Linked DNA regions of Homo sapiens. The protein of the gene in region 7 interacts with the protein of the main gene of each other region in a pairwise test. Each region holds a gene or a part of one and is shown on either strand. Other genes may lie near its edges. The genes, in order: SAXO4, LHX2, MDM1, CCDC120, C1orf116, MIA3 and HOMER3.

Region 1 (3,500 bases), on a different chromosome or scaffold from region 7:
TGTTGCCCTGGGGATAGCCTTTAACCAATGACCGATGGATGTGGGGGTATAAATACCCCAGCTCTCTCACCTTTGACTGGGGTAGTTCTGAGTTGTGTGCTTTACACTGTTTTCTAGAGTTTTCCCAGTGGGATAGCTGGCCTAGTAACATGCTCATTATTGCTGCCTTCCCTCCCTCATCCCTCTTCTCCACTCCCACACGCCTAATAACTGCCTGATAACATGCTTGCACTCCAATCCTTGGCTTAGGGTATGCTTCTGGGGAACCCATATTCACTCAGCATTGATCTTCTCCACGAGGCTGTGAGCTCATTACTTATCCCAGTCTCAGTCTGTTTCTCAAATGGGTTTCAGCTTTGGACCAGGAAGCGGACCTCACCCTTGGTTGTAGGTGGTCAGGTATCGCTGATCCCTGTCAGGATCACAGGGGCTCCGGACATACATGGGGTTGTTAAGGCTGAACCCTGTGGGCTCCTGCACAAGAGGGGTAGACAGGGGAATTGTCAAGTCAGAAGGGGTGGGGATTTGGGGGTGGAGGCTAGGTGTAGCAAGTCTCACCTTTTTCCCCACAGTCTCCCGGCCAAGCAGGGCAACGTTTGTCTGTTGCATCCGATGAAGTGGCTGAAACTGCTGGTGACTCACGCTGCTGGGTTCTGGGCAGGGAGGGGGCACCTGCAGGGCACAGAACCACCAGAAGGGAGGCTGAGGTGGCCAGCCTGAGGCAGCAGGGATGGAGAGGGGAGCAGGCAGAGGCACACACAGCTGTGACCTGTCCACAGCCCCAGCGACCCTCCCTTCCCCTTCCAGCCAATTCTATTTCAGACCACACCCCTCATCTTCCAGCCCCCAGGAAGGCCCAGGCTCTCTTCACCCTCCACCTGAGGGCCTACCTCCACATCCCTAAATATCCTAATTCTTCTCATTCTTCAATGCCTGACCCAAATGCCACCTCTTCCCAGAAACCTCCCTGTCTTCTCCCTTCTCTGAGCAAGACGCCAAGGCCACTCACTCTGGGGTTCAGAATCCTTTCATTCCCTCGGCTGAAGGCTGTTTCCCGCTTGGAGCCTCTGGCCAACACAGGTAGGAACTCATCTCCCTGGAGGGAGCAAAGCAGCCACTGGCACCAGGATGTGGCTGCCTCCCCCACCACCTTCCAGAGCCATGTTCTAACTGCTCCCCGCCAGGCGGTCCCCAGCCTCCCCCTAGCTCAGCTTACATGTAGGTGAGTCTTGGGGAGGAAGTCTGACTTGGTGACACTCTGGCCTGGGAGGAGGGCCTGGAAATAGGCCCACAGAGGATGTCAGCCCCGCAGAGGCAGCCTGGGCCCCTGGTGGCTCCCACCCACTCTGCCTCCAGGCCACTGCTGTGCTGAGCACAGAGGAGGACTCAGCTCAAATGGGCATCACTGAGAAAAGGGAAGTGTTTGGGGAGAAGACAGGGGAAGGCATGACTCTGAATGGGACCAGCAGGCCAGGGCTCTTGTCTGAACTCTGAATGACATTGGCTACACCTCCTTCATCTCTTTGGACCTCAGTCTTCTCATCTATAAATGGGGGACTTGGACCAAAGCAGTGGTTTTCACCTAAGCTCTTTCGTCTTGTGTTTGAACAAAGGGCTCTGCAGCTCACATTCTTTAGGAAAGCTAGAAACCCTGAGACTGGAGGGCTTCAAGCCCCCTAAAGTTCTAGCAGGAGCCCAGCCGACTTACAGGGTCCCCAGGGAGGGCCTGTGAGGGCGGTTGGAAGACAATGGGGCTCTGGTGGGACTGTTTGGTGAAGCCACTCCCCTCCTTTGCGCCGATCGATTTCTTCTGCAAGAAATCTGCAAAAGAAATGCCCTGTGTGCTGCCAGGCCACCTGGCCCACCCATGTGTCCTCCAGAGGCTCAGTGTCCCAGCAGGTGCAGAGGGAGTGGATCCCAAGATCCTGGAGACCTGCGCCATGAGGATCGTGGGTGGCAGGGTGAGGATTCCAGAGTCCAGGCCGGAGGACAGGAGAGGGAGCAGCAGGAAGGGCATGCACCGGCCAAGCCACCCTCCTGAGAGGCCCAAGGTACTGAGGTCAGCCCGGGAGAGGCGCTTCCCTCCAGCCACCTGTGCATCCTTCTTTCTTCCACTGGTGCCTTCTCAGTCCTAGGCCAGCTCCAGGGCCCCTGGGGTAGCAAGTAGGGAGGTGGATTGGAAGATGGGAAGGGAGCTGTGAGTTCAGACAGGGCCTACCTGGCTGGTCTAGAGGGTCCCTGAGATACTTGGAATTGTACTCCGACGTCATGAAGCGTGGGCCCTGGAACAGAGAGGTTGGAGGAGTGGGGGCACTGACCCACCAGGGCCCCGAAGGCGTGTGGCGGCGGTGGAGTGGCGCCTCGGTTCTCTGTGCTCTGAGGAAGCCTGTGTGGGCCAGTACAGCACCCTGGACACAAGTCTCTGTGGGGTGGGACATCGCAGGGCCAGGAATTTCAGCACAAAGCACAGTTCCCCTGTGACTATGAATACCACGTCACACCCCACACCAGACTCCTGGTAATGAGTGGGGGGCCCAGAGGGACCGAGACCAGGAGGGGCCGTGAGCAGGAGGAGGAAGGCTGGGGGAAGAGGAGTAGCGTTAAATCGCGAGAAGCCACATTGAGGCTATTTTGGAAATAGCCAATATCAAATCCTTTGCTCTCCCATCTTTCTTGGCGCCCTGAGCCCACCCTGAGCTGGCTTCTTGGGTGAGTCAGTGCAATACTTGTCTTGAGGTGGGAGGAAGAGGCGGGTGTGGCCCCTCTGCCCCACCCCGAAGCCCTTAGCTGGGCTGCCACTCACATGTCGGAAGTTCTCCCGCTCCAGCGGGTCCTGGCCCTGCTGCTGGTGGAGCAGAGGCACTTCCCTGGGCTCCAGCCCCGTGATGGCCTGAGGCCCGTGCTCCTGGGTGTCGAAATGGACCTTCCGGACCTGGGAGGAAGAAGGGCCAATTACAAGTGAGGGGGCGGCAGTCACTCCCTGACTCTGCTTCTGCCCTTGACCTTTACAGAGCGCAGTATCTGCAGAGCAGCCAGAGGGGGTCCTTTTACAATGAAACCTGCATGTCCCCTCTCTGCTTAGAGCCCTGCAGCCTTCCCATCACACTCGCAGGGAATTCCACGTCCTCCTGGTGGCCTGCAAGGACCTGAGTGCCTCACCCTGCTCTAGCTGCTTGTCTCCTTTCTGTTCCCACCTTGAGGCCTTTGCACTTGCTGTTGGCACTGCCTGGACCACTCCTCCCTCAGACAGCTGCAACTGGAGGAGCTGGCCTCCCTCAAGTTTTTGTCCAGTGTCTCCATAGCAAGCTCTTTCCCGACCCTCCCGATTTGCAGTTGCAACTCCTTCGCTTCTAATTTATTTATTACTTACATTTTTTGAGACAGAGTCTCGCTCTGTTGCCCAGGCTGGAGTGCAGTGGCATGATCTCAGCTTCCTGCAAACTCCACCTCCTGAGTTCAATCAATTCTTGTGCCTCAGCCTCCCAAGTAGCTGGGACTAC
Region 2 (2,517 bases), on a different chromosome or scaffold from region 7:
CCTTTGGCAAGTGGTTTTACCACTCTGACCCTCTCTGGTTTTTAAATCTATACAGTGAGGGCAGGCACGGTGGCTCATGCCTATAATCCCAGAACTTTGGGAGGCCAAGGTGGGCGGATCACCTGAGGTCAGGAGTTCAAGACCAGCCTGGCCAACATGGTGAAACTCCGTCTGTACTAAAAATACAAAAAAATTAGCCAGGCATGGTGGCGGGTGCCTGTAATCCCAGCCACTCAGGAGATTGAGGCAGGAGAGAATCACTTGAACCTGGGAGGCAGAGGTTGAAATGAGCTGAGATCGTGCCACTGCACTCCAGCCTGGGTGACAGAGCAAGACTCTGTCTCAAAAAATAATAATAATAATAATAATAGTCAATAAATAAATCTATAAAATGGGAATAATAATAGTCGAATCCACCTACTTGGCTTTTCATGGGAATAACCTGTGGCAGTGCATGCTGGAGGGTGGCATGGAGCCTGGCACATAGTAAAAGGTACATACATGTCAGCCATTCCTATGAATACATATTACTGATTCTTAATCTCTGCCAGTCTCTGCCATGCACCGGGGGACATGAAGATAGCATAGAAAGGGTCCCTGCTCCCATCAAACTCTCAGGAGTGGACTTTTTGAAATACCTGGGAGAGAATTCTAGTGAAGCCCTGACAACATGAAGAACAAACCCCACACAACCCCAGAGCAGCCGGGCTTTTAATGAAGTTGTTGAATTTTCATCTACCAGATTCCCAGTGCCTCAGCTCTGGAAAGCAGAGAAGGTAGTTGTGGACGATGGTGTCATTGTTTACAAGCCCACTGTTAGGGGCAACAGCCTGAGAAATAGCAAACAGCCGGCAACTAACCGGGTCCAGCCCTGCCCGAGGTCTTGGAGCCCCGGATGGATGAGCAAATGAGCACCCGGCAAAGCACCCTCAAACCCTCGACCCAGGCTCCCCGCTCCAGCTACTGCTCTGAGAGTCAGACGCACAGAGCACAGGCTGCTCAGGGGTCACACGCACACAGGCCAGGACAGTGGCAAGGCAGCGGCACCAAGGCTCCGGCCTTCTCCACCCCAATCTGCATGACTTTGGGGAAGTCACTTCCTCTCTCTGAGGGCCTCTGGGGGCTTCCCCATCCATTTTCTTTAGGCCACCAGGACACAGTCTCTCCCCTACAGATTTCTGCTGGCCGGGAAAGGGAAGGACCCCCCCACCCCAGGGAAAGCATGTCAAGGGTGGTCTGAGAAGCACTGTACTTATTTGCCAGCCCCCAGAAGGGGTGATGGGCTTTCTTTGGGCGGAGAGCCAGGGAAAATGTGCCTTCTTCCTGGGAAGATCCAGCACTGAGGAGGGAGCTTGGTTTCTCCACTTCACAGGGTCTGGATCTCCCACTTTACTCCAAGATTCTTGTGGATTTGCTTTTAATTGAGCCCAAATTGTGTTACGCCACCAGAAACGGGGGTTTGAGGCCACAGGCCCCTGCAGCCGGGGTGGTCCCAAGGGGTGCGTGGGGCCAGGAGTCAGCCCTCCCTCTCCTGCCAGAGACACTGGGAAGACAGGCAGATGCAGGACATCTGGAAATGCGCAACTGGACACCCCAGAATCTGCAGAGTGCCCTGAGGCCCTTTGTTTTATGGGGAGGCTTCTGGCGGGTGTTTTCCTCACGCAAAGGGAAGTGAAGGGGCCCTGCCTTTCAGGACTTTTTCCTTGGAAGGTTCAACCCCCCCAGAGTGGCCTGGATTTCCTAAGCCCCTCCCAAAGTACTTCGTGGACCTCTGGGTACAGCGGGTCCCTGTGTTTGTGCTGTTAGATGGGTGGTGGTACTTAGGTGCTGGCTGTGTAGATGAATTTCATTTTTCTTTTCTTTTTTTTTTTTTTTTTTTTTTGAGATGGAGTCTTGCTCTGTGGCCCAGGCTGGAGTGCAGTGGTGGGATCTTGGCTCACTGTATCCTCCGCCTCCCGGGTTCAAGCAGTTCTTCTGTCTCAGCCTCCCGAGTAGCTGAGGTTACAGGAGCGCACCATCACACCCAGCTAATTTTTTATATTTTTAGTAGAGATGGGGTTTCACCATGTTGGACAGGCTGGTCTCGAACTGCTGACCTCAAGTGATCCACCTGCCTCGGCCTCCCAAAGTGCTGGGATTACGGGCTTGAGCCACTGTGCCCGTCCTTAGATGAATTTCTGTGTGTCTTCCTGAATGCTTACAGGCGTGTGTGCAAAGATATGGGAGTGGACGCGTGTGTGTCTGTGCCCAAGGAAAAATGAAAGTAAACCCATGTTCTCTCACTGACATTCTTTTCAGACAGAGCTCAGCCCCAGCTCTGCGCCCCGCCGCACGTCCCTCATAAGTCGATACGGGATGCAGCAGGTCGGGAGAGAGACTCTGCGGGTTTCAACTTCCCTGGCCTCACTTTAATTTGGCTGCCGTTCCCACGCTGCCTACCTCCACCCACCTCCACCCTGAGACCTGACACCCAGTGGCCCAGGGTACCTGGTGGCTCCCCCAACCGATGATGGGGAT
Region 3 (3,500 bases), on a different chromosome or scaffold from region 7:
TGATCCACCTGCCTTGGCCTCCCAAACTGCTGGAATTACAGGCATGAGCCACTGCGCCCGGCCCCTGTTCTTTCTAATTGGAAAACAATCTCTGCCCCAGATCTCTGCATGGGCACCTTCCTCATCAGTCAGGTCTCAGCTAAAACGTCATCTCCTTAGAGGTGCCTGTCCTGATGGCCCAAACTAAAGCTGTCTTACCCATCCCTTAGAGACCTGTAGTCTTATTTAATTCACAGCGCTTACTACTATGTGAAATTATTTTCTTAAAAAATTGTCTATTCCTCCCAATGAAAATGTAAGCTTCATGAAGGCAGGGATTTTGACCTGATTATCAATAAATCCTCAGATCCTAGAACAGTGCCTGGCACTTGGTAAGAGCCTATTAAATATTGAATTGAATGAATGAAAATAAAACTACCCTCCAAAGAGGCTCCTTGTCCAGAGTTCTCTTGCTCAGTGCATGGTACCTCCATCAATCTTGTTGGGCAAGCCAGAAACTTAGCAGGCATCCCTGTCTCTCATCCATTATCCAACCCAGCATCAACCTTAACATTGTTCCCCTTACATAATTGTGCAGTTTCATCCACTTCTGTCTATTCCTACCCTCCTTCATCCAAGCTACCAACACCTCCTACGTGGACTACTGCAATGGCCTTTTAAGGGCATTCACAGCCTACTCTTGCCTCCTATGGCAGCCGGACAGATCTTGCAAAACATATATCCATCACAATTCCCATACTGAAAATATTTCAATGGCTTCCCATTGCTCTTGAGATAACGAAAGAAATCCCAATGTTGCCATGTTTTCCAGCCTCATGTTGTACCAGGCTCCCTGCCACACACTGTATTGGTCTTTGTTTCCTCAAACTCTACATTGTTTCTCTCCACAAGATCTTGGCATATGCTAGGCTCCTTCTCCCCATCCTTTTTTCCTGGTTAATGCTTCCTCTTCTCCTTTATCTTAGCTCAATTATGAGTTTTTCAAAGAAGCATCATTGACTTCCAAGAAGGTTTCTGATCTCCATGATTAGAACAATTCCTTCCAGAATAGTGCTAAGTACTTTTATTTTGAAACTCTTATTAGTTTTAATTTCATTTCTTTTTTGGTGTGATTAACATGTATCTCCCTTACCAGACTGCAGGTTTCATAAGATTATGTACCATGTCTGTTTCTATCCATTATCATTGCCATAGCATGTGGGTAAATCTGCTAAATGAATGAAGTGAGCAAATCCACACTTGGGTTTTTAATATAAAGATTTGAAAATGTTTCCTGATGATCAAACCAATATGAGAATTCTACCCTAAAGTTTTGGGACATACTGATAATTTATTGGAAATTGAATGACCTATGGGTTTAATTTTATACATAATAATAACGTAATTTCTTATCAATGCTTTTATAAGAGAATATAAGGGGAAAAACTGATGGTGTATATCAAAGTTTAGTGACTCCTCTGCCTACCAGTAACCAAGGGGTAGACACTGGGAAATAACCAAATCTAGCTAGCTCCTGGTATAGTCCCTGGTAGTGCTGGTCGCAGAAAATTCACATGGAAGGATATCCAATCAAGTTGTCAATAATAAACTTGTGTACGTATGTACATATGTATGTATTTATTGGTTTGGAGAGAGTCTTCCTCTGTCTTCCAGGCTGGAGTGCAGTGGCGTGATCTCAGCTCACTCCAACCTCCACCTCCTGGGTTGAAGTGATTCTTGTGCCTCAATCTCCCAAATGGCTGGGATTACAGGCATCTGCCACCACGCCCAGCTAATTTTTGTATTTTTAGTAGGGACAAGATTTCCCCATGTTGGCCAGGCTGGTCTTGAACTCCTGGCTTCATGTGATCCTCCCACCTTGGCCTCCCAAAGTGCTGGGATTATAAACATGAGCTACCGCACCAGGCCAGAAACTTATTTTAGAGGAGTTGGTAATTAAAATGTTAAAAGTGTATAGTACTCACAGTGAGACAGAGAATGGCATTAACATTCTAAGGGATGATATTACTCTATTTAGATTATTCAATAAATTAATTCCACAGTAAGTGAAAATAATACATATAAATCCAGCCACAAATATGGATGAGTCACTCGTTTTGGCTGAATCAGCTGTGTGTATACAGTTGCCTAAAAGCTCACACCTTCCAGATGGCAGCCTGGATTTCTAAGGAGGAGTAAAACAGTCCATTAAGATCTGATTCTCATGAGTCCTCTGACCATATTCCTAATGTCACATTTCCTTTAATAAACCAGTGTATACATAAGCAACAGGAAATAGTTTTGATATTCTGTCACTCCAATAACATTCATTCAATCTGTTACGTGCTATGAGCTGGACTCTGTTCTAAGCACTGGGGATTAAGAGGTAGAGGGTGCTCTGATCCCATCTCCCACCTGTTCCCAATCCCTGAAAACTCCTACTTTGTACTCAAATTCACAAACAGCCATCAGCAAAATTCCCTATAGATTTTCAACCTTTTCTCTGAATGTTCTCTATTCTACTCCAACCACTTACACCCATGATGTTAAGTTAAGCCTTGTCATTACTGGTAACTGCAACCTCTCCATAACCTAAATTTCTGACCACCATTTCCTAACTTTAAAACTAATCCCCACAGGTGCCCCAATTCCAACAAGTCTTTTATTTTACCTAGACCATCCATCCACCGATCCTATCACCTCTGCACTCTTCTCAAGTCCCAGTGTCCTTCCCTCACCAACTCATTATAATCCCTTCTTCATATATACCTCAACTCCATTCCCCTTTTTCTCACTTTGTCTTATTCTCATGACAAATTCAAAACCCTAGGTAAATCCAACTCTATCTGATAAAAGTATCCTGCACTTCTGCAGCCAAACATTACTGGAGAAGGGCACACAACCCTTCCTGACTGGTCTTCTGCCAACTTTGTGACCACCAACTTAAAATGGCCCCTTAACATTGGCCTAAAATATCCCACATTCCCCTGGCCCACTCACTCTCCCACTCTCTGAGAAGACTACTCTATGCCTTCACTTTCCTCAAATCTCCAACATCTTCCCCAGCCTTATTCTCAGTAAGGATCTTTCTTCACATGTCACCAAGAAGCAATAAGAAGAGGTCTTCCAAAAGCTGCCATCACATCTTCCTACATTCATCAGCAGTGCCTGCCCATGAATTCTGCTTTCCCTCTTTTAACAATAAAGAAACAATCAGTGTCTAAAGCCAACCCTTCCATATCTCCACCAGATCCTAAGCCCTTTCTCCTACTCAAGAGCATCTTTCCAACAACTTTCCCCTCACTCCTGCATCATCAACTTTTCTCTCTCCAAAATTATTCTTGTCAACATACAAACATGCTGTTGTGTCTTCCATCTTGTTCTCACTTCTCTCAACTACTCCTGCATTACTCTGCTTCCCTTCTTGGAAAAGAAACTTCAGAGAATTATCTGTGGCAGCTTTCTCCAATTCTTCTCCTCTTTTTTCTCTTGAATTCACTTGCACTTAGGCTTTTGTCCCT
Region 4 (3,500 bases), on a different chromosome or scaffold from region 7:
CACAGTTTCCCTTTTGTAAAACGCCTAGTGTTGGAGGAAGACAGTGAATACCTAAGTCACAACTGTAAACATAAATGGAGGAAGGGGCTTGGGGTCCCCATGACATCATCCCCCCTCTTTTAAGCTAGCTGAGGGCCCCCAGTCCCCAGCACAGTGTGAGAGAAGAAGCAGGGTGTCAGACACCTTCCTGGGCCTACGGGGAGCCAGGGGCCTTGGAAGATTAGGTTGGCGCACTCTGCTCAGGACTGAGAGCAACCACACCCCAGGGCCCAGCGAGGTCAGCTGTGTGCTCCCCAGATTGGAATCGTGCCCAGGCCAACAAGGGACATATCAGAAGGGGTCAGACCAGTGTCCCCGGGGTCTGGGTGTCAGAACTGGAGGACTGCTCCCCCTCTAGCGTCAGGTCACTTAAACGAGCGCTCAGCTCCGGGGGATACAGGAAGTCCGCGTAGTATCTTTAGAAGGGGTAGCAGGAATCCGGAGGACAGGGCGGGGAAGACAAGAAGAAGAAAAGACAGACAAGACACAGAAAAAGAAAGGAAAAGAGGCTCGTTAAAGAGGTGGAGGCAGGCACAGGACAGCACTTTCAGGCTCTGGGGCATGGAGAAAAAAGGAAGAAAACAGCAAGGGGCATGAGATGTCCCTTCCTCCCGGCACCCTGGCTTCAAGGCTCATCTTCAGCCTATAACTTGATAAAGAATTGCTGCTACCAGTGCCCAAGATCCCCTCCACCAGGACCCCATGGACTAATGCAGGTCATGTGCAGTAGAGTGACCCTGTGCCATCACAGCAGCTAGTTTCCTCATGGTCCAATTCATTAGCTATCATGACTAGCCACTCCCTGGCCTGGATATCTTCGCCATCTGCCTTACGAGACCCCTACCCATCAGTAAAAGCACCCCCCATACCTGCCAGAGACAGGGGGCGCCGTGAAACTCCTCGAGTGTGGGAGTGGCGCCTGGCTGGGGGCCCCGTACAGCGCCTGGCCCACCTCATAGCAGCGGGCATGGAGGAAGGGTGGGTGTGGCGGGCCCACGGAAGGGAGCACAGGCCGGCGCTGGGGCCCCGCAGCCAGTCCCGAGTTCCGGATGTACCAGTCCCGCAGCCCCTCCAGAGCCAGGTTCTTGTGGCCACTGCGTTCACCAGCCGAGGGGATACGGGTGGGTGGGGGCATCCACAGCAGAGGGTTTGGATGCACCTCAGGGCCTTCGGCAGCCTCTGGGGGCAGGCCACAGGGCTTAGTGCGGGTGGCACGGGTGTGGGGGTCCTTGGTGCGGAGGAGGGGGCTGTTGCTGTCAGCTGCATACACAGGTGGTGGGCCGGGGAGCATGGTGAGGAGCCCATCCCGGCGGGAGAGGGGTCCTGGGACCTCAGCTGCAGGCGGCAGCTCCCCCCAGCCTGTTCCACCGCCACTGCGGGGCAGGCCCCGGTCCAAGGAATAGTCCAAGAGGAAGTCTCCACACACAGGTGGGAGCCGGGGGGCACCTCGGGAGGCAGGGGCAGCTGAGCTAGGCCGGGCGGCCCGGGGAGGGTCTGGGGGGCCTGCTGTGCGGGAGGAGAAGGCAGGGGTTGGTTGGGGGCGCTCATACAGCACCTCACTGCTCTTGCAGACTGGGGGGCCAGAGGCAGAGGGAGCCAGAGGGGCAGGCGGGGAGCCAGCTCCCCCACCAGCGGCCCGGTCCACCAGCAGGGCCTCAGAACTGTTGCTGCGGCGGGTGCGAGCTACGAAGAGGGAGGCGCGATCGGAGGCAGGGTCCGCCCGGGGGAAGCCCATCTGGGAGTCCTGGCTGCCGGACCACTGACGAGAATGAAGGCCTTCAGGTCTGGGGTGAGAGGCGAGGGTCATGGGAATAGGGTCAGAAAAATCAGGCAGAAGGCGTGCAGTGCCCTCCCTACCCCAGCCCTTTCTAAGCCTTCACTTTCACATCTCCAAATGGGCCCAAGGTTGGAAGCTGTGTGTATAAAGGTGGCAGGTAGTGACATGTAAAGGGCAGCTGAGGTTCTATCCTAGGCTAGGCGGTCAGGGGTAGAAATGCGTGGGGGAGGCCTGGCACTGTTAGCTCCAAGGGAGGTGTAAATCTGTGTAGGGACTCAGAGGAAAGGCTAGCAGAGTAGATGCCGGGCAGGGGGCTGTTCCTAATCCAGCTGACCCCTCCCCCTGCTAAGGCCGTTCTCATGGCTCGCACGGCCTCCAGGATTAAGTCCTAGGCCTTAGGGCTCACATGTAAAACCCTGCCTGAATTCTCTATCCGACCATACGTATGAACCACCCAAAGCTACCATCCCAACAGCCACCGTTCACAGAATGCAAGCCCCACAAGGAAGGGGACTTGGTTTTGTTCAGAGCCTGGGGAAAGTAGGCACTCTGTTTAAGAAGCAGAAGAGGACAGTGGTTAAAAGCATGGACTCTAGAGTAAAACTTGCCTGGGCTCAAACTCCAGGACTTCAGTTTACTAACAAGTTACTTAACCTTTCTGTGCCTCACTTGCCTCATCTATAAAATGGGAATAACAATAGCACCCACCTCACAGGGATCTGATTATGATTAAATGAGTTGATGCCACGTAAAACACTAATTCCTAGCAGATGGCAGGCACTCAGTATATGTTAACCAGAACTTATTATGTCCATGTCTTTCAAAGGCAGATATTATTATTTCCATTTCACAAATGAGGAGACTGACTCCTACCCCATTATCCACCGAGATGCCTGCTCACCTTTAATGCCCAGCCTCCCATGTCCCACACCTTTTGTTTTTTTGTTTGTTTTGAGACGGAGTTTCGCTCTTGTCGCCCAGGCTGGAGTGCAATGGCACGATGTTGATCTCAGCTCACTGCAACCTCCGCCTCCCGGGTTCAAGCGATTCTCCTGCCTCAGCCTCCGAAGTAGCTGGGATTACAGGCATGCCCCACCATGCCCAGCTAATTTTTGTATTTTTAGTAGAGACAGGGTTTCACCATGTTGGTCAGGCTGGTCTTGAACCCCTGACCTCAAGTAACCCGCCCGCCTCGGCCTCCGAAAGTGCTGGGATTACAAGCGTGAGCCACCGCGCCCAGCCATCCCACCTTTTGATAATGTTGTCCTCAAGCTTCCAGTGAGAACTAATGGTTCCCTCCCCTCTGATCCTCCAGCCCACCCTCAGATTCCCCTTACTTGCAGAGCTGGGGGCCAGCGCCCCGGGTGAGGACAGGGGTGGCAGGCACACTTCGCCCCTCAAAACTGGAGGCACTCCTGGGCAGCGAGCGTGTGGGGCTAGACAGAGACAGGCAGGCCTAGGTTAGAGACTGTACCCACCAGCAGACCCTCTGCCAGCCCAGGCTTGCTATCCCATTCCCAGCTCCTGCGGAGGGGAGGAGGGGCTCATTCTCACCTGGTGGGGCTGGCCACAGAGTTCCGCCGGCTCTTCAGATCCCCATAAAGATCTGATGGAGGTGGTTTCCATGGGGTTCGCCGCTCAGGGCTCCCCCCAGATACTGCCCGCAGCTGGTCCCAAGCCTTGG
Region 5 (3,500 bases), on a different chromosome or scaffold from region 7:
ATCAGGCCAGAATCTCCAGGGGCAGCCTCAGTGTGGCGGGACAGCCAGTGCTGGGGGTCACTGTGGAAACTGCTTCGGCTGCTCTTCAGAACAATATTAGGTGGCAGCTTCCGGGGCTTAGGGGTTGTGAGGGGAGCTAGTCGGCTGTTTGGGTCCTCCCCTGATGAGAGGGGAGCATCTTCAGCTCTTGCATTCTGAGGCAACCCTGCAGGAGGAGGCTGGGGTTGTGTGTACCTGGTTGAGACTGTTTCCTTGGCTTTTTGGGACATGGCTTCTGAAGGAGTCTGCTCTCTTTCCTGGGAGCTGGATGGTGTGTGGAGCTGGGGTGTGTGGCCCTGCTGTCCTGGCCCCTCGGGCAGGCTGGCTTCCCTACACTGCTCTGGCTGGGTGTCCCGGAAAGCTTCTGGCGGAGGGATGAGCACCACGTCCAAGTCAAGGGCAGCCTCCTGGGGGCTGGCAGGTGCCTGCCTGGGTTGGCTGCTCTGGCTGACCTGTTCTTTCTCAGGCTCTGGCGCAAGCCTCCCCGGTTCTCCAGGGTTGTGACTGCTAGCCTGGGTGGTGCTTTTCCTGAAGTTCTGGCTTCTGGCAATGTGGATATTCCTAGGGAGGCTGTAGGAGCCAGACCTGAGGCCTAGGCCCTGGGGCTCAGGAGGGTGGGATGAGCTGGACTCAGTTACTGTCCTTGGCGTTCGTCCTTGCTGAGTGATGGTCTCCTCTGGACCTCCTGTGAGGGTCAGAAAGAACATAAAAGAGTGGACAGAAAAAGAGTGGACAGAGGTGAGGGCCCTGCTGCAGAGGGGAAAGCAATGACTTCCTGAACTCTGATCCCAAACTAGCAATGAATGGGTTTTATTTTGCCTTGTTTTCTTTGCTTTTACAAGAGCAGCACTTTTGTCTGGATATCATTTAGACTAATAGATCAGTAATAGCAGATCCAGGGCCAGGCGCAGTGTCTCATGCCTGTAATCCCAGCACTTTGGGAGGCCAAAGCAAGTGGATCATTTGAGCCCAAGAGTTCGAGACCAACCAGGGCAACATAAGAGACCCCCATTTCTACAAATAATAATAGCATATCTTTTTTTGACTGAGAATTAATTTTTCATGATGGGCGGCAAGAGAGTGACCCCTGATTGCTCTAAGTTATTGACTTGACCTCTCCCCAGTTTTCTACAGAGGCACCAGGGTTGGAGATAAATTTGGGACAGTTCCTTCTAGCTATTTTGGGCCTCCCAGATAACTGAGCCCAATGCAAGCCTCTGAATAAGTGATTTGCTCTTGATTCAACCAGGCTTCTGCCTTCTACTTGCACTTTCTATGAGCATGTGGATAATTCTGTAATAGCCATAGTGTCCCCACACCAGAAAGTGACTCCTTTCCTTCCAGTGAGCTAGGCAGGTACATCAGGCCCCCTGGGCCAGTGAATCAGCCTCATGGAGCAGGAAAGCCCTACGTCCCCATTTATAGCTCTAGCTCCAGGGAAGGTCTAACTACTTGTTAATAAATATTTGCTAAATGAAACAACACAAAACTGCAGCCCCAATACCAGCGGGACTGTCCTCAGGAGTAAAAGGTTTCTCACACCCTGGGACATGTGGCCCCACAGTCATGGCCACACTTGTGTGTTGTTTTGTTCCCCTTCTGCTGAGCCTGAATACCACTGGCTTTCCACGCTCTCTAACGAGGGCCTTGAGGTACTTCCCACTGCAGCTGGGGAGCCCTTCCTTCTCCTTATCTCTCCTACCCTTGTCCTCTGTGTCACCCAGATTAGCTCTCTAGACTGACTCAGTCTCTCCAGAGCCAACCACCCAGCCCTCCCTGACTCCCTCCCCCGCCTCTGCGGTCATATCTCTTTAGAATTTTTCCACAGGAGAATGGGAGCTGGTCAAACCCCTTTCCCTTCTAGAGCTCTGATACTTCATAGACAGACATAGGAAGCTGGCTTGCCAGGGGTCCCTCCTTCCCTCCAGGGACAAGGCTCTGTTCTAGCCAGGAGAGTGGTGAGGAGTGTGGCTACACCTTCTTCTGCCTGTGACCCTTGGGGTAGAGGGCAGGCGAGGTAGAAAGTGGCCGGAGGGGACATATTGATTTTCTGGGTTTTGCTGGGGTTCCACCCCAGAGGGTCTGCCTTACCCCGGGGAGTGGGTTGGGTTATGGGCAGTGCTCGGAAACCTCTGGGAGTTGTGGCTGGCTCAGACTCGTCAGTGGACAGTCCGCTGTCAGCCTCCGTGTCCAGTGAGCCAATGGTCTCCTCCAGGAAGAGCAGACACTCCTTCTCTTCAGTGGACAGGAAGTCGTAGCTGCTATCACTCTGTTGGGTTTGGGGTTGGGGGCGGGGGCGGGGAGGCGGGGGGGAGGGCGAGAAGAAGAACAGGAGAGGGAGAGAGAGCTGTGAGAAAGCGCTCCCTCCGCAGAAACTGGCGGGGCCTGAGAACCACCCTGCAGAGAGGAAGGAATGCTGAAGAGCTGGAAACCTTTCCCTCCTGCTACTCTGCAAAGCTGCTGGAGTTGCCTCCTGAAACTGTAGGCACCAGGGAGGGCAGAGTCTGTCAGGAGGCTGGCCCACTAGCGCCCAGCTCTGGAGCTGGGCAGGCACATGGCAGGGGCCTTTCTTTTGCTCAGTCCTGGCTTGAATGCTTAGGGGCACAGATTAGAAGCAGTCCCAAGTTTCAATGTTTGACAGCCTTTGTCAAACATCTCACTTTGAGCACCTCTGATTTAGCTCCAAATAAGAAGTGCAACATAACAATTTGACCTGAAACTTCAGTGGTATTGCTTTTAACTTTTAAAAGTACTTCTGCATACTTGATCTGGTATGTCAAGGGCAGTATGAGGAAAAGCAGGAAATGAAGCCAGCTATGAGCTGCCAGGCCAGTAGGAACTGTGGCATGACTGGCCACAGATAAATGTACTAAATGATTTGTACTTGACTTTGAAATGCATTCCATACGGGAATTTTTCCCCTTGTACATTTACTTTCTTGATGACATTTGGCTCTGGCTAATGTTCAAGTAAGTGTGCATTTCTAAAGCAAATATTAACTTAAAGGGGGAGGTTGGTGGAGAAACTGGATGGTATGGGAGGAGGGAAAAGCAGCTTAGTATTAAATATTAAGTAGATCTTAAAGTAGATCATATTCATTATGAGAGAGTACATAGAGGTTTTTGGAAGAAAATAATAATGGTCATCTCAGACAGTTACTGTCTATGTTGTATGGGGCTAGAAGTTTGCTGGAATAGTTGCTCTTCCACAGAGGAGGTTGAAGGGAAAACAAAAGGGCAAATTGGAATATAAGAAATTTGGGCCAAGTCTCTTCTTGGCATCTCCAGCCCTTTTCCTAATATTTGGGACACTTCAGAGTTGTATATTCTTCAGGCCCACTCAGATGGCCAGGAAAGATTTTGAGACAGCTCTAAAAATATCCTGGAGGGAGGGGAGAGGGTTGCAGAATAACCCTTCCATTTGCCTCTGGAACTTCCTTTCGCATGTGGGCCTACATGTTA
Region 6 (3,500 bases), on a different chromosome or scaffold from region 7:
ACTTTGTATGGGTCCCAGAGTGTTATTCAAGGTTTACAGTATTGCACTAAACACAAAAAATACATGAGAACCACAAGAGATCACTTTTTACTCACTGTACAATTTACTGGAGAGATGAACTGCTCACGTGGAAATGATTAGCGTCGCATGGCATTTTAAGTGGATACTCACAATACTTGAGCTCACTAGAATAGCAAGAGGAGGTGGCTACGAACTATTATAGTACAGTAGGTAGCACAATTAATTTATGCAATTATGATTTAATATTTTATCTTTACGTTTGTTTATATTTCTCTCGACTGCAAAAGGTGCCATGTAAGATCTGAGTTTGTGTGTGTACGTTTTGATAAACTGTAACTTTTTATACAGATTTGTGTATGTTTTATGGTAGTAAAGAATAAAATACACTAGGATCTACATATGGTTTACATGTCAATAACATACCTTTTTCTTAATTTTTTCAGTATTTCTAGGCTATGCGGTCTGAGAGTTTTTAACAAATTAATGCAAACCTCCACAAAATTTTACAATATATTTATTGAAAGAAATCTGCATTATAAGTGGACCCACACAGTTCAAACCTGTGTTGCCCAAGGATGAACTGTATTTGCACATATGATGTGCTATACTGCCATTTTCCAAAACGATATTACAGGTAACTGGAGACAAAACAAAATTACAGTGTAATACACACTAATCTGCCCACCAAGCTTTCATTTCATGCAAACCAAAATCTCTACAGAAAATAATTCCATTCATTTTCAGCACTAGTAAAATGTGCCCTCTTGAGAAACACACAGTCTTTTACTAGCTACTGTCTGAAAGGAGAGGTAGATCTCCCAATCATTAAAGGAGGAGGCTGGCATGTAAATCAAATGCACAAAAAGAAAAAAAGGCCATCTTATCACTAATTCATAAAACATCTCCATTCATGAGTGCTCTTGATCTGAAAACTATCTGAAAGCCAGTATTAGTAGTAAAATACTGCCATGGAGATTAGATAAGGGCAATTAAACTCTGTGTTATTGGCAGATCAAGTCTAAAATGCTAAGAAACCAAAAAAGACTGCAGAATGAAAACTAAGAAACAAATGAGAATCATTTTGAAAGCTGAAGACAGAGTTTTTAATTTCCTAAGAATAAGGTTCATCAAATTAGAGGGGAGACTATTTTAAGGGAGAACCTGGAAAAAGGAAACAAATCAGAGGTAGAGGTATATAGGGAAAGGGAAATACAATACATTTACCTTCCTTAATCTTTGTCAGTTGGGACCACAGGTGGCATCTCATTTCTTATGATTTGACCAAAAAAAAAACAAAAAAAAAAACATAGGCTCACATGACAAGAAAAAATCTTTATGTCTAATTTTGCTTTCATACATCATTTCTGCCAAGGTACTGTTGATTTCATTTGGGCGGGGGGTAGGAGGGAAAGTAGAGTATCGCCTTAAGAGAACAAATTCTGCATAAGATAATATCAGGACAAATATAAATAAATGCCACTGCCTCGTCAGGAAATACTGAAAAAGAAGACAGATAAGGCATGAGCCTTTCCATTAAAGAGTCTTTCACTTTACGTGAGCTAAGACAGTACACAAATTAACTGCCATACAAAGCAGTAAAGCAAATGCCACATGAACAGTGCAAACAAAGTGCCACCTAAACAATCATCAGGCAGCAAAGATCCCTTCTGGCTGGGTGCTGAAGGCAGCGTTCCTTAAGAAGGCAGGATGAGAGGTGTGACCCAGAAAGACTGACAGGACATCCAGAGATGAAGACGTGAATGAGCAAAACTGCAGTGGGAGGAAAATGTTAAGTCAAGTTCATTCATCCAAATGCTCAAAGATGAGGAGTGGAAAAAAAAACTTAACTTTTCTATGAAAAAACGCAGCCTAGGTACATGGAAAAACATTTCCAAGAGTAAAGATTATCAACAAATCTCATTAGGTAGACTTGAAGGAAATAGAATAGATTTGTTTTGGTATGGAGCAAGTCACTTGGGATGCTCTCTAAATAGGAGAGCTGAACCTGACCAGTTGTTGTTTCCCAAGATTACTCCCTAGGAACCTGGAATGCCAACAAAATCAGTCTATTTTCCCCAAGGGGATTTCTCAAGCCTTATTTTCTCTTTGTTTGTTTGGTGTTTTACTGACAGTGAAAACTTTCATAGTCGGGATGGGTATTTCTCTAAGTTGGGACAATCCTAAAGATATCGAGGACCCTTACTACTTGAAGTAAAGACACAGTCCACATATCACGCTTTCTAAAAAGGAAAGGACAATAACTCATAAGACAGGCCTCTCAATCAGGTCACTCCCAGTGAATCTCCTCATTAAAAATACCAAAGCATGATGCAGTCATTGATTGCCAGGTCTGATAGCAGGGTACCCATAAAATCAGCTGGGAATCAATCCCCTGGGGTAACCTCCAGACACAAGTGTCTGAAAAGCAGGACAAGGATGACCCCAAGGCTGCAAACAAAAATACAAACAAGAGGCTGGTTGCGGTGGCTCACGCCTGTAATCCCAGCACTTTGGGAGGTCAAGGTGGGTGGATCACAAGGTCAGGAGATCGAGACCTAGCTAACACAGTGAAACCCCGTCTCTACTAAAAAAATACAAAAAATTAGCCGTGTGGTGGCAGGCACCTGCAGCCCCAGCTACTCGGGAGGCTGAGGCAGGAGAATGGCGTGAACCCGGGAGGCGGAGCTTGCAGTGAGCCGAGATCGCGCCACGGCACTCCAGCCTGGGCGACAGAGCAAGACTCCGCCTCAAAAAAAAAAAAACAAACAAACAAGAAAGCACACGAGAAACAACATTTTGCTTTTTTACAGACTTATAATAGCACAGATGATTAGGGAACTGTTCCCAAGACTGCCACTTTTTCATAAATAATAATATAAACAAAGAAATACACATAAAATCAACTTTAAGCTTACATGCCTGAAACACTCTCTCACATATAGTTTACAGGAGTAAGTCTAATTCCTATGAATACTTCCTTTTTAAAGCAATGAAGTATTTTTCAGCTCTTACCATTTCAACCTCTAATACGTATGCAGCATCCTAGAGGTTGACCCTGAGGGGAACTTGCCAGAATCAGTTCTATTTCAGAAGGCTCTGCTGAGCCCCTACTCTGTGCAGACCCAAGGCCTGCTGGGGACACAGGGCCATCTTTTTTCACAGTCAGGCAGAGAGGACAAGTTAACTCCATCAAAGGTCCCAAGAAAATGCAGTCATTTAACTCTACAGTGCTAAAGAAGCCAATAAAAATTAAGCAAATAAAGTATGTCGATATTTTACTTACACTTCCAGCCCAAACTTCAGGCCATCCTCTTGCCAGTTTATAGTAAACATATACAGGATCACCTTTTTTAAAATTCACAAAACGACAATCCGGGCCTGTGAAATCTTCAAGAGCCTCACCGCGGTACATTAACACTGTATATAAAGAGAGAGAAAAAAAATAGCCAGATATCAGGATTCAGTGTTCACAGTGCATA
Region 7 (2,515 bases):
GAACACCATGTCCATTTCCACCAGGCAGGCCCAAAGTTTTGCAGACACCAGCTGCTCGAATGGCCATGGGATTTTGGGCCCTGAAGCCCCTTCTCTGGGCTTCCAGTTTCCTCATCTGGAGAATGGGCATAGCAACTGCCCTGCTCTCCAGAGGCAGCTGTGAGGCTTTGGTGAGGTCAGTCCTGTGCCGAATGGGTGCAGCTATAAGCTTCCCTGGCCACCCACCTGGCCACATCTGGGGTTTGTGGCCAGAGTGAAGGGGCCATGAAAGTCCAAATTTGGCCAGACAATGTGGGCTAAGCCCAAGGGGACAGGCAGAGAGACACCAGAGCCAGCTTCCTGGCTGTGTGGCCTGGACCCCCCTCGGACTCCAAGCCTCACCCCTCATCTGCAAGCGGCTTATAACTGCTACATGGATTCAGGGGCACCCAAAAAGACGCAGGGAAAGGCGCCGGCGACATGTTAAGTGCCCAGATACCCACATACCACACACACACAGCCACGCTTAGAAATGTAATCGGGGGATCTAGAAATTCTACACAATGAGAAGCTCAAAAACAGCCCCAAAGCTGCCAACAACCAGAGCCGACTGGGGCCCACCCCAGCCCAGCCCGGCCCGGCCCACCCAGGGCTAAGTTGGGACCCCCCAGTCCCTTTCCAGGACGAATGGGCCCAACTATGCCGCCTGCAGCCTGGCCCGCATCCCAGGCCGGAATCGTTCATAGAAAACCAGCCCCGGCTCAGGGCGCAGCCTCAGCCAGGCGGGCCAGGCCCTCACGCAGCTCACTCAGCTCAAACAGGCTGACGTCCAGCAGCTGCGCTGCCCGGCCCACCTCAGCCCGCGCCCGCTCCCGCTCTGCCCGTGCCTCCTCCAGGCTGCGCTCCATCGCCCGCAGCTGGTGCTCCAACTCCGCATTGCGGGTCTCCAGGTCCTGCCAGGAAAGGGTGGGCAGGGTTGGGGGCCCCAACAAATCACCAGTCCTGCCCGAGGCATCCAGAGTCTGACCACCTTCATGTCCCTCTTCTGCCCAGAGCCATCCTAGGGCGCCCAACACACCAGGAATAAAATGCACACCCCACAGGGGCCTAGCTTCTGCCCTCATTTCTTTTGTTTGTTTGTTTGTTTTTGAGAAGGAGTTTCGCTCTTGTCGCCCAGGCTGGAGTGCAATGGCGTGATCTCGGCTCACTACAACCTCCGCCTCCCAGGTTCAAGCAATTCTCCTGCCTCAGCCTCCCAAGTAGCTGGGATTACAGGCATACACCACCACGCCCAGTGATGGCTTACACCTGTAATCCCAGAACTTTGGGAGGCGGAGGCAGGTGGATCCCCTGAGGTCAGGAGTTCAAGACCAGCTTGGCCAACATGGTAAAACTCCATCTCTACTAAAAATACAAAAATTAGCTGGGCATGGTGGTGCACACCTGTAGTCCCAGCTACTCTGGAGGCTGAGGCAGGAGAATCGCTTGAGCTCAGAAGGCGGAGCTTGCAGTGAGCCGAGATCGCGCCACTGCACTCCAGCCTGGGTGACAGAGTGAGACTCCATCTCAAAAAAAAAAAAAAAAGGCTGGGCGCAGTGGTTTACGCCTATAATCCCAGCACTTTGGGAGGCCGAGGCGAGTGGATCATAAGGTCAAGAGATCGAGACTATCCTGGCTAACATGGTGAAACCCCGTCTCTACCAAAAAATACAAAAAATTAGCCGGGCATGGTGGCGAGCACCTGTAGTTCCAGCTACTCGGGAGGCTGAGGCAGGAGAATGGAGTGAACCTGGGAGGCGGAGCTTGCGCCACTGCACTCCAGCCTGGGCAACAGAGTGAGACTCCGTCTCAAAAAAAAAAAAAAGTACCCCCTGAACATTTCTCAGATAAAGCCTTTAGCAAAAGCCAAGCCAAGGCCAGTCGTGGTGACTCAAGCCTATAATCCCAGCACTTTGGGAGGCTGAGGGCAGATTGCTCACGGTCAGGAGTTCGAGACCAGTCTGGCCAACATGAGGAAACCCCATCTCTACTAAAAACACAAAAAATGCCCGGGCACGGTGGCGCATGTCTGTAATCCCAGCACTTTGGGAGGCCGAGGCGGGCAAATCATGAGATCAGGAGTTGAGACCAGCCTGGCCAACATGGTGAAACCCTGTCTCTACTAAAAATACAAAAAATTAGCTGGGTGTAGTGGCGGGCGCCTGTAATCCCAGCTACTCAGGAGGCTGAGGCAGGAGAATTGCTTCAACCCGGGAGGTGGAGGTTGCAGTGAGCTGAGATCGTGCCATTGCACTCCAGCCTGGGCAACAGAGCGAGACTCCATCTCAAAGAATTAAAAAAAAATAAAGCCAAGCCAAGCCAGACCTAGTTCCAATGCAGGCTCTGTGATCTCAGGCTGAGAACAGGAGGAATTGACGGGGTCTGGCATGGGAATACAGCAGGAACTCAAGCATTGCTTGTTGAACCCATAGATGGATATGAAACTGTACCAACAGCCACTGTTCACGCGGCACCTGCTGGGCATCAGGCCTTCCAC

What was found.
Region 1: the proteins of HOMER3 (region 7) and SAXO4 interact in binary tests that used the Homo sapiens proteins (3 or more experiments, as listed by UniProt).
Region 2: the proteins of HOMER3 (region 7) and LHX2 interact in binary tests that used the Homo sapiens proteins (3 or more experiments, as listed by UniProt).
Region 3: the proteins of HOMER3 (region 7) and MDM1 interact in binary tests that used the Homo sapiens proteins (3 or more experiments, as listed by UniProt).
Region 4: the proteins of HOMER3 (region 7) and CCDC120 interact in binary tests that used the Homo sapiens proteins (3 or more experiments, as listed by UniProt).
Region 5: the proteins of HOMER3 (region 7) and C1orf116 interact in binary tests that used the Homo sapiens proteins (3 or more experiments, as listed by UniProt).
Region 6: the proteins of HOMER3 (region 7) and MIA3 interact in binary tests that used the Homo sapiens proteins (3 or more experiments, as listed by UniProt).

What each region holds. Positions count from the first base shown.
Region 1 is NC_000011.10:61,484,120-61,487,619, reverse strand, and holds part of SAXO4 (stabilizer of axonemal microtubules 4), read right to left. Parts: intron 2,933-3,500; coding exon 2,804-2,932; intron 2,283-2,803; coding exon 2,219-2,282; intron 1,822-2,218; coding exon 1,709-1,821; intron 1,277-1,708; coding exon 1,217-1,276; intron 1,097-1,216; coding exon 1,010-1,096; intron 673-1,009; coding exon 559-672; intron 475-558; coding exon 380-474; intron 1-379.
Region 2 is NC_000009.12:124,028,768-124,031,284, forward strand, and holds part of LHX2 (LIM/homeobox protein Lhx2), read left to right. Parts: intron 1-2,517. UniProt on the Homo sapiens protein: Acts as a transcriptional activator. Stimulates the promoter of the alpha-glycoprotein gene. Transcriptional regulatory protein involved in the control of cell differentiation in developing lymphoid and neural cell types.
Region 3 is NC_000012.12:68,308,363-68,311,862, forward strand, and holds part of MDM1 (nuclear protein MDM1), read right to left. Parts: intron 1-3,500. UniProt on the Homo sapiens protein: Microtubule-binding protein that negatively regulates centriole duplication. Binds to and stabilizes microtubules.
Region 4 is NC_000023.11:49,065,499-49,068,998, reverse strand, and holds part of CCDC120 (coiled-coil domain-containing protein 120), read right to left. Parts: coding exon 3,371-3,500; intron 3,253-3,370; coding exon 3,154-3,252; intron 1,824-3,153; coding exon 909-1,823; coding exon of another isoform or gene 887-908; exon of another isoform or gene 456-886; coding exon 341-455; 3' UTR 1-340. UniProt on the Homo sapiens protein: Centriolar protein required for centriole subdistal appendage assembly and microtubule anchoring in interphase cells. Together with CCDC68, cooperate with subdistal appendage components ODF2, NIN and CEP170 for hierarchical subdistal appendage assembly.
Region 5 is NC_000001.11:207,022,757-207,026,256, forward strand, and holds part of C1orf116 (specifically androgen-regulated gene protein), read right to left. Parts: intron 2,309-3,500; coding exon 2,131-2,308; intron 725-2,130; coding exon 1-724. UniProt on the Homo sapiens protein: Putative androgen-specific receptor.
Region 6 is NC_000001.11:222,621,097-222,624,596, reverse strand, and holds part of MIA3 (transport and Golgi organization protein 1 homolog isoform 1 precursor), read right to left. Parts: intron 3,439-3,500; coding exon 3,305-3,438; intron 1,291-3,304; exon of another isoform or gene 1,246-1,290; intron 1-1,245.
Region 7 is NC_000019.10:18,928,703-18,931,217, forward strand, and holds the end of HOMER3 (homer protein homolog 3), read right to left. Parts: intron 933-2,515; coding exon 741-932; 3' UTR 501-740; downstream 1-500. UniProt on the Homo sapiens protein: Postsynaptic density scaffolding protein. Binds and cross-links cytoplasmic regions of GRM1, GRM5, ITPR1, DNM3, RYR1, RYR2, SHANK1 and SHANK3.